4 linked regions of the Homo sapiens genome follow. The protein of the gene in region 4 interacts with the protein of the main gene of each other region in a pairwise test. Each region holds a gene or a part of one and is shown on either strand. Other genes may lie near its edges.

Region 1 (3,500 bases), on a different chromosome or scaffold from region 4:
CACATGGAATGTGGTCTATTTCATTAAAAAAAGGAAACAAAAAGCAGACATCTGCAAATGTATGTACCAATTAACAGCAACAGGGATAAAACGGAATTGAAATAAAGGGTGATTTCCGGCCGGGTGTGGTGGCTCACACCTGTAATCCCAGCACTTTGGGAGGCCAAGGCGGGCAACCTGAGGTCAGGAGTTCGAGACCAGCCTGGGCAAGATGGCAAAACCCCATCTCTACTAAAAACAGAAAAATTAGGCTGGGTGCAGTGGCTCATGTCTGTAATTCCAGCACTTTGGGAGGCCGAGGCAGATGGATCACCTGAGGTCAGGAGTTCAAGACCAGCCTGGGCAAGATGGCGAAACCCCATCTCTACTAAAAATAGAAAAATTAGGCTGGGTGTGGTGGCTCATGTCTATAATCCCAGCACTTTGGGAGGCCAAGGCAGGTGGATCACCTGAGGTCAGGAGTTTGAGACCAGCCTGGCCAGCGTGGTGAAACCCCGTCTCTACTAAAAAAATACAAAAAATGGCTGGGTATGGTGGCTCACGCCTGTAATCCCAGAACTTTGGGAGGCCAAGGTGGGCGGATCACCTGAGGTCAGGAGTTCGAGATCAGCCTAGCCAACATGGTGAAACCCCGTCTCTACCAAAAATACAAAAATTAGCCAGGCATGGTGCTGCGCACCTGTAATCCCAGATACCCTGGAGGTTGCAGTGAGCCGAGATCATGCCACTGCACTCCAGCCTGGGTGACAGAGCGAGATTCCATCTCAAAACAACAACAACAAACCCAAAAAATTAGCTGGGTGTGGTGGTGGGCGCCTGTAATCCAAGCTACTCAGGAGGCTGAGGCAGGAGAATCGCTTGAACCCGGGAGGTGGAGGTTGTTGTAGTGAGCAGAGATCGCGCCATTGCACTCCAGCCTGGGCAACGAGTGAAACTCCATCTCAAAAAAAAAAAAAAAAAAAAAGACAAAAAAAAAAGAAATAAAGGGTGATTTTTTTTCTTCTTCTTCTTTTTCTTTTTTTGAGACAGAGTTTTGCTATCACCCAGGCTGGAGTGCAGTGGTGCGATCTCCACTTACTGCAACCTCCGCCTCCGGGGTTCAAGCAATTCTCCTACCTCAGCCTCCCGAGCTAGGACTACAGGCATGCGCCACCACAACCAGGTAATTTTTGTATTTTTAGTAAAGACGGGGTTTTGCCATGTTGGCCAGGCTGGTCTCGAACTCCTGACCTCAGGTGATCTGCCTGTCTTGGCCTCCCAAAGTGCTGGGATTACAGGCGTGAGTCACTGTGCCTGGCCAATTTTTTTTCTTTTTTAGACATGTTTGTATGGCTTTTTTTTTTTTTTTTTTTTTTTTTTTTTGAGACAGAGTTTCCCTCTTGTTGCCCAGGCTGGAGTGTAATGGTGTGATCTCGGCTCACTGCAACCTCCGCCTCCTGGGTTCAAGCAATTCTCCTGCCTCAGTCTCCCAAGTAGCTGGGATTACAGGCAGGTGCCACCATGCCCAGCTAATTTTGTATTTTTAGTAGAGATGGGGTTTCACCATGTTGGTCAGGCTGGTCTCGAACTCCTGACCTCGGGTGATCTGCCCATGTTGGCCTCCCAAAGTGCTGGGATTACAGGCATGAGCCAATGCACCTGGCTGAAACCACTTTTCATAAAACAAAACAAGAGCCCTGCATCTATGTATACATCTCCATAGCTATGTGTACACAGACACGCACACATGTACAGAAGTGGTTGAGGACACAGACCATACTGGTAACATGGAGCTATCTCAGAAAGGATGTGGGGGCGAGTGGGTTGTGGGGGAAGAGGGACTTCCATCTTTTTGTATTAAGCCCTTTATTAATGTTTAAATTGTTAACAACTAGCACACTACCGAATTTTTAAAAGTATTAAAAAAAAAACAACAACAACCTGGCTGGGTGTGGTGGCTCACGCCTGTAATGCCAGCACTTTGGGAGGCCGAGGAAGGAGGATCACCTAAGGTCAGGAGTTCGAGACCGGCCTGGCCAACATGGTGAAACCTCGTCTCTACTAAAAATACAAAAATTAGCTGGGTGTGGTGGCAGGCATCTGTAGTCCTAGCTACTCGGGAGGCTGAGGCACGAGAATGGTGTGAACCCAGGAGGCGGAGCTTGCAGTGAGCTGAGATCGTGCCACTGCACTCCAGGCTGGGCGACACAGCGAGACTCCGGCTCAAAAAAAAAAAAACAAAACAAAAACCCATGATTTCTAAGTACACAAGCCTCTGACTCCTATCTGTTTTAAGGCCCCCACAAAGCCACATTCCAATCCAGCACCTCCCTGAGAGGATCAAGGGCTGGGTCCTGCTTTACCTGGCTGGTTTGACCTCTTCCATCTCAGAGAGTTTGGCTTGAATGAGGCACAGCCCTGAAAGAGAAGAAGTGGCCCTGAGCATTTGTGAGGGGAGAGGGCTCCCTCCCTCCTAGCCACCTCCTTTCCCAAGAAGCAGTGCTGGATGGAGAAAGGCCCATGTTTACTCTTCTAGAAATTCCATCTCTGCCCCCACACCACATCCTGCTGGGGTCATCTGGCATCTGCTCTCCCATGACAGGCTGGCATCTGACAAGACCCCTTGGGCAGCATGCTAGACTCAGCTAAAGGGACAGCACTCAATGGTGACTCAGTGGTGGCCCAACCCCAGGGGTCTTCCTAGTACACTTCCCAGCAGATCTGGCTCCCCTGCTCCAAGCAAAGCAGCTGGGGCTTTCAGGGTGGCTTCCTGGATAGAGACAAGCTGGAAAAGGGTGGAACTCATGGCTGGGCAGACAGGACAGTTCTCCAGGGATCTGGCGGTAGATCTGTGTCTGGAACCCAGGTTCCCTGATGTCTGTGTCAGGGTGCCACCCCAGACCCCACTGCCCTCTGGGCTGTAATGGGCTGAACCAGCCAGATAGATCCCTCATAGTCAAGGAGCAGCAGACACCTGAATGAATGGTTAAAAGAATAGACTCTGGACCCAGACAGCGTGGGATGGAAAAGGTTACTAGTTGAGTTTGTTAAGCTCTAGGCAAGTCTGTGACCCTTTCTGAGCCCCACGTGCCATCAGTAAACTGGAGATCACAACTATACCTTCTTTCCAGGAGATAATGCTTGGATAGGGGCTAGTACAGAGGCGAGACAGGTGATCAATTAGTGCTGGTGGTTACTCTCTCCTGCATGTTTTGAGCAAGTAGGGAGCTGAGGCTAGGCAGGCCCTGGGAGTCTGTGCTGTGGGGCTGTGAGATGGGGCGCCAGGGGTCCGCACCTGGGAAGACGAAGATGAAGCAGGCGGCCAGGCCTCCAATGACTGAGATCACCTTGCCGATGTCAGGGATGAAGAGCGCCAGCAGCAGGGTGAGCAGGAACCAGACCAGCGTCTGCAGCACTCGCCGCCGCCGCTCCCGCCCCACGTCCTCCTCCACTGGCACCCCCTGGTAGCGCAGCCACAGGCCTTCCACCACCGCCCTGCCCACATGGAGAAGGGCTTAGAG
Region 2 (3,500 bases), about 80 Mb from region 4:
AGCATTAACAGCCAATGGGCAAAATACAGCCAAAAGACTGAGGAGAGGGCAGAGGGGCAGATTTAAATTAACGTAGCAGCAATGCTGGGCTACTGGAAAAAAGATGACTGATAGTAGGACTAAAACTGCCACCAAAGTTAAAATGCCTATATAAACTGTTTCAACAAAGTCACACTCAGAATATTTTTGTTTTTTTAATTAAACTTACGCAGGCTGGGTGTGGTGGCTCATGCCTGTAATCCTAGCACTTTGGGAGGCCACAGCAGATCACTTGAGGTCAGGAGTTTGAGACCAGCCTGGCCAATATAGTGAAACCCCGTCTCCACTAAAAATACAAAAATTAGCTGGGTGTGATGGCATGTACCTGTAGTCGCAGCTACTTGGGAGGCTGAGACAGGAGAATCGCTTCAACCCAGGAGGCGGAAGCTACAGTGAGCTGAGGTTGCACCACTGCACTCCAGCCTGGGAGACAGAGCAAAACTCCATCTCAAAAACAAACAAACAAAAACCAAAAAAACTCAGGCAAACCAAAAAAGGCATCATAATGTAATAAAAGAAAATATAGGTTATTTGGCTAGTTTTAATATGTTTACTTTAAAAAATAAAATACAGCAGAGTATCTAATGTCATCAAGACCCAATATGGAAAGGTAGCTAAATAAACCATTCGTGCTCTTGCATTTGTTTCTGATTTACTTGGTACCATACCTAAATAATAATGTGCACAAATCTTTTAATTGATTGTATTCAGAATTTATTAAAAGCACCACTTATTGGATAGTTTATTAAATGCATGCAAGTATCTGTATATGATTTCTTCAGCATATGTGTGTTTAAGGCAACATGAGAGAGAGCCAGAGACAGGAAAGCTGTCCATTTTAAAATCAAATTGGTGTATATCTCCTGCTTATTCAACATGTTTTGGTCTTGGAATTGTTTCTCTAATAATGTACTGGCAAGTCAGACGTTAAATTATTTAAGGTTTCTAAACACTGATTTGGTGGAAGTGCTAACAATCCTTGTGAACAAAGATAAGCTTCAGAAAAACTGAACAGCACTAAAAAAAAGTATCTACTTTGGAAAATAATGATCCTTTGTAATTGATTTTGGTTTTAGATATAAAGTTTACATTGGTAATTCTAATGTCTGTTTACCAGTTTAATTTTAAAAAGTACTTGGCTGGGTGCAGTGACTCACACCTATAGTCCCAGCACTTTAGGGAATCTGGAGCAAGAGGATCACTTGAGCCTAAGGATTCCAGACCAGCCTGGGCAACATAGTGTGAAACCCCATCTCTACAAAAAAAATTTAAAAATAAACCTTGCATGGTGGTGCGTGCGTGCCTGTTGTCCCAGATATTCAAGGCTGAGGCAGGAGGATCACTCGAGCCTGGGAGGTGGAGGGTGCATTCAGCCATGATTGTGCCACTGCACTCCAGCCTGAGCAACAGAGCAAAACCCTGTCTCAAAAAAACACAAGGAAAAAAAAAGTACTTAGCCAGGTGCAGTGGCTCATGCCTGTAATCTCAGCAGTTTGAGAGGCTGAGGTGGATCACTTGAGGTCAGGAGTTAGAGACCAGCCTGGCCAACATGATGAAACCCCATCTCCACTAAAAATACAAAAATTAGCTGTGTGTGGTGGTGTGTGCCTGTGGTCCCAGCTACTCAGGAGGCTGAGGCAGGAGAATCGTTTGATGCAGTGAGCCAAGATTGTGCCACTGCACTCCAGCCTGGGTGATAGAGTGAGACTCCATCTCCAAAAAAAAAAAAAAAGTACTTATCACAGAGACATAACCATAAACTTAAGTTCTAATAGTACTGAAAGTTATTTTAAATAGAAATCTTTTACAAACATCACAATAGTGTCTTTTATAGAATGCCTAGACAAAACCCAGTTCTCTAATTATTTTCCTTATAGGAAATCTAGAAAAAACCTTCAGTAGAATGGTACTAGTATGACAAATTCAATATTATAGTCTCAGAAGTTCTTTCATTTTTAAAGGATAAAAAAAAAACCAAAAGAAAGTCAACATGGAGTCAGTGAAAAAATTCTACACCAGAAGCAAAGAGGTGCACTAGATCTACATGAAGAAAAGCACACCACTGAGAATTACTTACAATAAGAAAATGAAAAAAATCCAGAAAAATACTGTGCTCTCAGGGACATACAAAAAATTAAGAACTCAGGGTGGGGGAAAAAACAGTATTAAAGAGGACTGGGACTAAAAAAAAAAAGACTATAAGTTAAATAAAAACACAATAGAAATTTAAAATCCAAATTATAAGCAGTAAGGAAATCAGTGATGGAAGGGCCTAACTTAAGAAGCTATGCAAAAGAAAAAAGTTAGAAAGGATGTGTGAGATGACAGCAATGAGAACAAGAAAGGAGAGCCAACCAATGAAAAATTCCTGGAGAAAAAAACAAGAGCAAAACAAAAGGCACCAACTTAATATTTTCCTCAGCTAAAAAAAAAAAAAAAAAAAAAAAAAAAAAAAAAAAAAAAAGATTTCCACATCTAAAGGACCTGTTATCTTTTAGATAAAATTATTGGATTTAAAAAATCAGTAGCTATAACCCTAAACTTTGAAATATTTTAATCATTTTACATCTACAATGCAACAGATGGCTGTATTTGCTATGGAAAAGGCACATTTATCCAGTCAGGATGGTGTAAATCTGGTATTTTACTGCGTACCTTGATTATTTTGTATTTGGGTTTGGACATTAACTTGCTGAGGGCAGAAACAAGAACCTGAACTCATGCCTTAAGATAAAAATTGCATTCTTTTTATACACCTACTACATTTGAAACTATGCAGTGGCTCAATCATGGCTCACTGAAGCCTCAATCTCCCAGGCCCATGAGATGCTTCCACCTCAGCCTTCCAAGTAGCTGGGACCACAGGTGTGTGCTAGCACGCCCAACTAATTTTAAAGTTTTTTGTAGAGATGAGCTCTCCCTATGTTGTCCAGGCTGGTCTTGAACTCCTGAGCTCAACAGATCCTCCAGTCTCGGCCTCCCAAAGTGTTGGGATTACAGGCATGAGCCACTTCGCCCAGCCCACCCAAGCATTTTTATGGGCTCTGAAATGTACTACGTAAAAAGGACACGCTTTATTGGTTTAGAAAGTTAAGTATACATTATTATTATGATCAGCAGTAGGATAGCTATTTTATTTCCACCAGTCATTGATTAAAACAATCCAAGTGTAGTAGGTATTAATCAGTAGCTTAAGCTGGAAATAAAAATTTACTATGGGAACGACTACAGTGCTTTCAAATAACCGACATATGAAAAATTTACAGCTAACCTCTTCCAAAGAGCTGTCCATACTGCAGTCTCCAATGCTCTTCCTCCTGTTGTCTCTTGAAACCACACCAATCAGGTTTTCTTCCTCACTATTCTCCTGAAAGTGCTCTTGCAAGGTCACCAAGGACCTTCCTATTACTAAATCCAATGGTCATCTCCTAGTCTTCATCTTACTTGACTTGTCAATCAGC
Region 3 (4,031 bases), on a different chromosome or scaffold from region 4:
TTTCCGCAAAGCAGACATAGGTGTGGGTGTGAGAGGCGGGAGGAGGAGGGGAGACGAGGGAAACTGGGGCCCCACTCACATGATGTTCACAGCCACAGCGCAGCCCGACGTGATCAGCATGGTCCCCCCGTCAATTTCATAGTCCCCAGAGATCAGCCGCTCCACAGCCAGGTACACCAGTACCCCCGTCACGACCCAGATGGACAGTACAGAGACCAGGGCTCCCAAGATCTCTGAGGAAGAACCCAACCCCAACACCCACCTTGGCATGGGCCTGGAGCTAAGGAGTCTTCCCCCTTCCTTCAGGATCCTCCCCACCCACCTCCCACACAAAGTCAGGGCCTGGGTCCCACTGGGCTCTGCTGAAGGTATGGCCGGTATGGCTGCCCCTTACCCCACCCCTCATATATCTAGGAATGTAAGAGCTAGAAGGAACTAATAAGTCATCATCTGAGTCCACCTTTTTGGTTGTACATGTAAAGAAGCTGACTTATTAAAGTATGTGCCTTTTGTTCAGCTAGTAAACTGAGGCTTCTGGGGAAGACAGGCTGGGCCATCTCCCACAAAGAGGAAGGTGACGATGCAGTCCAGGGTGAACGGAAGAGAGGTTAAAGCCTATATCTTCCAGCAGCCTTTGCTGGCCTTCCCCTCCCCCCAGAGCTGATCCACAGAGTTATGTGCAGTGTTAATGCCATTGTCATTTGTTCTTGAAGCTTGGCTACTGCACTTCTTAGGAAGGTCAACTTTGCTTCCCTGCAGACTGAGAGCTCCTGGATGACTGGGACCAGGGCTCCCCCATCAGACTAGGATTTCCCAGAGGACAGAGGCCATGGTTGACATCCTCTTCCCCCATCCAGATCACCCTCCTGGCCTCACTCAGGGGAGGAAGGGGGGATCCACCCATTACAGCCACCTAAGAACCCCTGTTCTAACCCACCCTCTCTCTCAACCCCATCTCCAGCCAAACCGCGATCCTCACCAGCTCTCTGCCAGCCAAAGTTCATGGTCTTGGTGGCTGGCCGGGAGGACATCCAGAGGGAGAAGAGGCTGATGAGCATGCTGGCAAAGTCAGTGAGCAGGTGTGCTGCGTCAGTCATGACAGCCAAGCTGTGTGCCAGGTACCCACCTGCAGGGTGGAGGGTCCTTATCAGCTCCCCCAGAGAGCTGGCTCCCAAGACTGTGTGTGCAGCAGGGAGACCACAGGCTCTGGAAGAGGACATTCTGGGCTCAAGATCTCTCTACCCATGAGCTGTACCACCGTGACAAGTGACCTACTCTCTCTGAGCCTCAACTTCCACTCTCTGTGAAATGGGCCACCAATATCTACTTAGAGGGTGAATGTGCACATCAAGTTCAAATAGGGACTGGAAAACATAGCAGATACTCAGTAAATGCTCTTCCCTTCTAGGAATTCAGGCCTTCCCTTAGCTACGAGTTGTGCGTGATCTTTGGCAAGTTACTTCACCTGAACATGCCTCAGTTTCATCATCTGTAAAGTAAGGAGAATAACGTCACCCATGTGAGAACACAGGTTGTTGTTAGACCTGCATCAGATAATGTGTATATAAAGGCTTACTGTAGTGTGTGTTCAGTAATTGGGGCTTTTAGTGTCAGTATTGCTGGGAACATCCAGTCTATCCATGCACCAACTTCATTTAATTAGCCCAAAAGTGCTTACCAACGACTTCTCCGATCATGAACAACAGGCAGATGGCAGAGGCTACATACAGCTGGCGCTGGGCCTTCCCCTTCTTGGGGTCACAGTGACTGTCAGGACCCTTCTGAGCATGGCAGTGATGGTTGCTCTGGGCAGCCAGCTCAATGGCCTGCAAGTCCAGGCCAGGTCGGGGCAGAGGAATCCAGCCAGCCCCTTCCTGCCACAGAGATCCCGTGTATGACCTGGCCAGAGGGGAAGAGAGGGAACGCTCAGCTCTGAGATGAGGTAAGGAGGGCCGACTCTAGTCCCATTTCTCTGTGAGGCCTTGTGTCCACTGGGAAAAATAGCTAAGGACGCTCCGAGCTCGACAAACCAGAGGTGAGAAGCCTGTATTCAGACGGGGATGATAGGGGAATGGGAGTCCTGGGGCCCGGGGCCCTTCAGAGGCCAGAGGAGGTGAAGACCCTGGGAACCGGCCAAGGGGCGTGCTGTCCAGTGGAGCGCGGGGAAGGAACAGAGCGCAGGCTCTGGGAGAACAGCAGGCCCCCTCCAGCGCACTTGGGACACAGGGCCTCCCCGGGGCGGGGCTGCCTGGGGCAAAGTGCTGGGCGGGGCGGGACTCCAGGCATGGGAACCGCCAATCCCCCGGCCCCAGGCCCCCCGCGGGCAGGGGTCAGAATCTGGGCTGCGCCCCAAGGGAGAGACGGTCCTTGGGCCACAGCCCATTATCTTCGTTCCCTCACCTCACCCCACCCCTCCTGCATGGTCCCAGCTCAAGCCGCAGCCAAAACCAACCACTGCTAGGATGGCAAATGCGGAGGTGCGTCGGCTGCCGCCAAAATTCCCGCCCGTCCCCAGGCTCTCGCCTTACCGGATTGCCGGCCTGGCGTCCAACAGATGCTGCTTCTCCTTGGCCTCCATGCAGTCCCGCGCCGAGTCCCGGCAGCCGCGCAGCCGCCCCGCCGAGTGCGCCCTGAAAGTTGCGCGCGGGACTCCGGGTGGCGCTCACCCACCTGCCCCGAGGGCCCCGCGAGGTGCGCTCACTCCGGCCCGGCTCCTGCGGCCCCTGAGCTCCCCCGGCTCCCGCTGCGGCTGCAGCTCCGGCTCTGGCTCCGCGTGCCAAGCGCTCCCGTGTCTCGGGTCAGCCGCTGCGCCCCGCGGCCGCCGGCTTTATCCGGCCCTCGCCAACCCGTGTGAAGCTGCCGTCGGCGCGTCGTGTGCAAAAGCCCGCGGGGAAGGGGGGGCGGTCGCCGGCTGCAAAAGGCCCGGCTGTGGCCCCGCACACCTGTGCCTGCGCCCATGGGGCCCGCGGAGCCCACCTGCCGGCCGCGAGAAGTTTGCCAGCCTTCGCCCGGCGCGGCGCCGGGTGTTGCTGAGTGAGGACGGGGTGACGCCTGCGCCCCCTCTCCCGCGCGGGGTGCGCCGCCTCGCCGCCGAAAAGTTCTCGACTTTAGTTTGTAGAAATCCGCTTTGGTGGTCCCGACGGCAGGAATGTGGCTCCTTGCCTCGGAAGAGGGTCTCCAGAGGCTACTGGGGCCGCGTCTGCCCCCTCCGACTGGCGGCTGCCCTGGGCTTGATCATGTTCCCCTCTCAGGCCGGAGACCCCCCGAGGTCGGCTTGCGTTCCTGTCCTCCTGCTAGGAGGGTCCTGGGGTGGGGTGGGCTGCGCCGCCCTCAGGCTGGGGCAGTGTCTCTCCCTAGGACCGGCTGGGACTGATCGACCCATCCTCGCCACTGAAGCAGCGCCAGCTCCTCCTCTCCTGCGCGCAGGAGAATCTGGAGTGGCCGGCTTTGTCTCCACCCGCACAGAGAACAGTGTCATCGGCAGTCACCATCGGAGCAGAGACGACCACTGCCACTGCTGCCACCCCTTCTCCCCTCCCCCGCAGCGGCTCCTGGGAGCCCCAGGAAGCCTGACAAGCAAGCCTGGGAGATGCAGGCCGGAGGTGCCACCGTGTTGGTACCGCTGGGAGAAGCCCTGTCCTTCCTGGCCAGCTTGGTGCCCCACCCACTTGAAGCAGCCTCCTTCCCTGGCGGTTCTTGGGGATTGGGGAGCCTGTGGCCCCCACGCTGGCCTCTGACAGGTGCCCTCTGTGTAGAAAGAAGCTGCTGGAGACCTCCCTGTCTGGTCAATTCGTCTCCCCAGCACCCTTTGTCGCTAGGACCATAGGCTTGGTGGGTATGGCCTTTCACAGAGCCAAGAGTCAGAGGTGCAGGCCTCTTGCCCACACCACTGGGGACAGGAAGGGGCTCTTTCAGTCTCTCATCTTGTAGGAGACGGGGTGCCAGGAGTGAGGATGTGAGGTGCACCCGCTCTGCTTGGGTCCTCACTGAGTGCCTCTCTGCTTCTCTGGACTCTGGTTTTCTTCTGGAAA
Region 4 (4,834 bases):
AGAGTTACAGATGCAGCTGGCCCCCTGGGGGGCTTCTATCCGCCTCTCAGAGCCCTTGGTCCCACCCTGTTATCTCTTCAGTGACAATCTTAGCTAGAGTTTCAGTTTGAGGGGTTTTACAAAACTTAACCCGTAGTATTTTTCAAGTACTACCCTCCCTAGTCCCCCAAGCCCCCACATTGTCCACTCCTGTTCAGAATATTGTTGATAGTGCAAGCCCTCTGGAAGGATAACACAGAAAATCCATTGTCTGATTATACCATGTTTCATAACATTTTATCATTTCCTAGCACATTTCCCAAAATGAGGGGTTACAGAGCAGATCAGGGAAAGGAAAATCTAGGCACACAGAGACCATTCTATTTAACAGGGGTGCCCAGGGAAGAGCAGGAAAGCACTGCAGACCTGGAAGAAAGTGTGGGCTAGTGCTGTACGGCAGCTGGACCCTCTGGCCTTCATAGCTATGGGTAAAATGGCATAAAATGCCAACTTCATAAGATTGCATTAGATATTATATTCACCAGTACTTTGAAAACTGTGCTGGTGTTACCAGTAGTACTAACATGATTATTCCTATAAAGTACTAAGAGGGGGACAGAAAAAGGACCATAGAGTGGCACTAAATGAAAGCCTGCCCTTCTTCATAGCTTCACTGGAGGCTTGCTCTGACCTGAGCTAGCTGCATCTGAATATTAGCAGAGGAAGTTATGTCAGGCTCAGAGATCTATGGACCCTGTTAGAAACTCTGTAATTCCTTTCTTTTTTTTTTTTTTTTTTTGAGTTAGGGTCTAGCTCTGTCACCCAGGCTGAAGTGCAGAGGCACAATCATGGCTCACTGCAGCCTTGACCACCCAAGCTCAAGCCATCCTCCCACTTTAGCCTCCCAAGTAGCTGGGACCACAGGTGCACACCACCATGCCTGGCTAACTTATTCTCTCTTTTTTTTAATAGAAATAGGGCTCTCACTATGTTGCCCAGGCTGCCCGGGTTGGTCTCAGACTCCTAGAATCAAGCTATCCTCCTGCCTTGGCTTCCCAAAGTGCAGGGGTTACAGGTGTGAGCCACTGTGCCCAGCCCAATTCCCTTATTTCTGAATCACAATTTCTACCTATCCAGGTGACATTTTCCTTAATTTCTCCATGTAAATATAGGATCTGAGGTAGTAAGAGATGTGTGTGTGTGCATGCCTGCATGTGTGTGTGCATGATGAGTTGCCAGTGTTACCTGCAACAGATGAAAATGAAGATCCAATGCCTTGAAGGGTTCGGGCCACAAAGAGTAGAGTATAGGTCCCAGAAAAAGCAAACACTGGGCAGAGAGAATAGCAAGATAACTGCAGTTAGCAAATTGCCTTTGCTTCCCCAGCCGCCAGAGAACATGCCCGTGATACTGCAGATATGAGTCTTGATGCATATGTTTTTAATAAAGCATGATGACTGTTCCCTGTTTTTTGAGTTGTCTTTTCAATCTCCCACTCCTCAGTTTTGCTATTTAAATGGCAAGAAAACTGAGAAACCACAGAAGTATAAACCGAGTCACCACACAGCAGATGGAAGGCTGAGTCTGTACATCTCTTGCCAAGAACCCAACATTCTGTCCACTGAAATGAGGGATGTCCATGAAGCTCAGTGTCCTAGGCTGGAAACTGGTTCTTAGATCATACTCCTGGATCGTCCATGTGCAAAATCCAGATCTGGTCTTTACCATTGCTGGGTCCCACAGGATCATCTGGAGTACAGTGACAGTAAGTAGGTGCTTCGAGGATTATAGGAATTGGGTAGAAAATAATATCTTGTGATACAATCAGATCCTTTTTTATATCTTATATTGAACGATCTTTTAACCAGACAAAATCAGCAGGTATTAAATTATACTGAATGCGCAGCTCTGCTAGACTCTGTAGCAAATGCAAAATAAAAATAACATCTAGTTATTGTCCGTGAAGAGAGGCAGTGTGTTGAAGATGGACACCCAGGAAACTGAGATCCAACAGGAATATGTCATCCAAAACAATAAGAGAAATATGGCTCTGTCCTGCCAGGCTCCCAGACAGTCAGACCTAATGGTTATCTCCCCTTGCTCCCTGAACATCTCCATTATCCTATTCTTTTTTCAAGGTTCTGAGATCTCATATTGTTCAAACACACACGCTTTATGAACAATTTGTGCAGTTAACGCAATCCTCACAGGGTCCTGAGTCGACATACATCCTCAGTTTACGAAGACCATGGGATTAAGAGATTAAAGTAAAGACAGGCATAGGAAATTATAAGAGTATTGATAATTGGGGAAGTGATAAATGTCCATGAAATCTTCACAATTTTATGTTCAGAGATTGCAGTAAAGACAAGTGTGAGAAATTATAAAAGTATTAATTTGGGGAACTAATAAATGTCCATGAAATCTTCATGATTTATGTTCTTCTGTCATGGCTTCAGCAGGTCCTTCCATTCAGGGTCCCTGACTTCCCGCAACACAAAACTAAATCAGAGGGTGCTGGTGGTCAGGGTAGTTAAGTCCAGACATGTCTCACCTCCAATTCCAGAAAAATGTCTCCTAGGGTAAGAATAATCTCCTCGAAGTGTCTGAATCAGAAGAATTGTAATCCCTTTGCCCATTCATTACAGATGTCTTTGGTTGTGTTTTTAATCTTCTCCCATTACTTCCCGGCAGACATGATCACACCGAACTTCTCCTTGTCTCCCAAAGATGCACATTCTTGGTCTCTTCTTTCCTGGCCACCAGCATCTTTTCTCAGACTTTGTTATTTCCAGTCTTTTCTGTCTACTCTCCCAATGTCCTTTGAGAATAGAGTGACCCACTCATCTTGGTCTGCCCAGAACTTCCTTGTTTTTAAAACTGAAACTCAAAATACCCCACAAAAACAGGAAGTCTTACATCCTGGGAAGCCCCTCACTACAGTGTGGACATGGGTTGTTTGTCCCCACCAAATCTCATGTTGAAATTTGATCCCCGGTGTTGGAGATGGGGCCCAGTGGAAGGTGTTTGGGTTATGGGGAAGGATCCCTCATGAATACTTTAATGTCTTCCTTTGGTGGTGAGTGAGTTCTCACTCTACAGTTCTCTCAAGAGCTGCTGGTTAAAAAAAGGCTGGCACCTCCCTCTCCTCTCTCTTTCTTCCTCTCTCATCTCTGCACAGCCAGCTCCCCTTCACCTTCCACCATGAGTGGAAGCTCCCTGAGGCCCGCACCAGAAGCAGATGCTGGTGTCATGCTTCTTGTAGAGCCTGCAGAACCATGAGCCAACAAACCTCTTTCTAATATAAATGACCCAGCCTCAGGTACTCCTTTATAGCAATGCTAAATGGACTAAGACACCCCTCAATTCTAGGCAAACCAGGAGAGTTGGTCATTCTATTTAGGAATACCAAAGCAATTATTTTTTTCACTTTGGACCCTTTACATGGGCCACCATTTCACTCTTGATTACATTAGGCATGGCTCCTAGTTGGGGGGTGGAGGGTTTAAGGGTAGTAACGGGCATCAACAATCTCTTTTAAGTATTTTTTAGAACATTGGACAAGGATACCCTAAACATCAAATGTATTTTCTTTTGGTTAGAATTAGGCCAACTCCATATAGCAACACAGCTATCCTATGGAAATAATAATTATTTAACATATATAGTTTGGTATAAGTTAAACAATAATTACTTAACATATACAGTTTACTTTAAAAGTAAAGCTTTTAACACATGAATTCTTGGCAGAGAATCAGGCAAGGATATCATGCTAAAACGTCTCAGATCCACTAGCACACCGCATTGTCTTACTTCTCAGTGTGTGTCTCATGTCTCCCCAGGCAACCATCATATACACTTCTGATAGCTGGAATCATGTCTTTTCATTCTTTATGTGACTATGGCCATCTGGGCATTATACATGCACTGCATAAAGTTGTTTGGAATAAATCTTAAGCCTCATTTGATGAAATAGGGCACCTGGCATCTTATTATTTTTAAATTTGCTGTCTAACTTAGGCTGAACTGCTAGAAGTTCCATGAACAGTGCTAATTTGAATTTCTTCATTTTCTTCAAGTCCACTAAAATTTCACAAACAAGACGTAGTTCTCAGAGACAACCTCACATCTCAAGTTCTTGCAGTTTGCAGCCTTCCAGCCCAGAATGCAACAAATTCTTGTTAAATATTGGGTTGCTAGGAATCAAGTTCTGTGCTGGGAAAGAAGAAAAGTTGAGGAAGAGGAAGACAGAAAGTAGACAAGGAACAGAAAGGTAATAAGAAAAATGAGAGGCATGTTCTCACTCATAGGTGGGAATTGAACAGAGAACACATGGACACCGGAAGGGGAACTTCACACACCGGGGCCTGTCATGGAGTCGGGGGAGAGGGGAGGGATAGCATTAGGAGATATACCTAATGTAAATGATGAGTTAATGGGTGCAGTACTCCAACATGGCACATGTATACATACGTAACAAACCTGCACGTTGTGCACGTGTACCCTAGAACTTAAAGTATAATTAAAAAGAAAAGAAAAGAAAAGAAAAACGCGAGGGAGAAGGAGGTGTGTTGTTGGAGAGCAGAGGTTCAGCAGGGCCATCGGGAACCAAGGCTGGATCCACAGGCTGCCTTCCCCTGCCTTAACCTGCTAACGCTAACCCTTTTCATTCCTTCTTCCTTTACTTCTCAGCATCAATTTCCAGACTTACTTTTCTCATGTACTGTGTTTATCCCATCTCCATTTTATTAGAAACATTTAGCTGATCCTGGATAGAGTATTTGTCTTTCTCTTTCTTGTTTCTTTAGCAAATTTACTTTTCTAAGCTTAACCTTTAAAGCCCTTAACTGAAAAG

Evidence for each region.
Region 1: the proteins of SLC18A1 (region 4) and SLC38A7 interact in binary tests that used the Homo sapiens proteins (3 or more experiments, as listed by UniProt).
Region 2: the proteins of SLC18A1 (region 4) and ANKRD46 interact in binary tests that used the Homo sapiens proteins (3 or more experiments, as listed by UniProt).
Region 3: the proteins of SLC18A1 (region 4) and SLC30A2 interact in binary tests that used the Homo sapiens proteins (3 or more experiments, as listed by UniProt).

Annotation. Positions count from the first base shown.
Region 1 is NC_000016.10:58,667,771-58,671,270, forward strand, and holds part of SLC38A7 (sodium-coupled neutral amino acid transporter 7), read right to left. Parts: intron 3,475-3,500; coding exon 3,275-3,474; exon of another isoform or gene 3,100-3,274; intron 2,398-3,099; coding exon 2,343-2,397; intron 1-2,342. UniProt on the Homo sapiens protein: Symporter that selectively cotransports sodium ions and amino acids, such as L-glutamine and L-asparagine from the lysosome into the cytoplasm and may participates in mTORC1 activation. The transport activity requires an acidic lysosomal lumen.
Region 2 is NC_000008.11:100,553,260-100,556,759, forward strand, and holds part of ANKRD46 (ankyrin repeat domain-containing protein 46), read right to left. Parts: intron 1-3,500.
Region 3 is NC_000001.11:26,043,319-26,047,349, forward strand, and holds the start of SLC30A2 (proton-coupled zinc antiporter SLC30A2), read right to left. Parts: upstream 2,801-4,031; 5' UTR 2,579-2,800; coding exon 2,529-2,578; intron 1,900-2,528; coding exon 1,679-1,899; intron 1,127-1,678; coding exon 980-1,126; intron 234-979; coding exon 80-233; intron 1-79.
Region 4 is NC_000008.11:20,173,137-20,177,970, forward strand, and holds part of SLC18A1 (chromaffin granule amine transporter), read right to left. Parts: intron 1,309-4,834; coding exon 1,225-1,308; intron 1-1,224.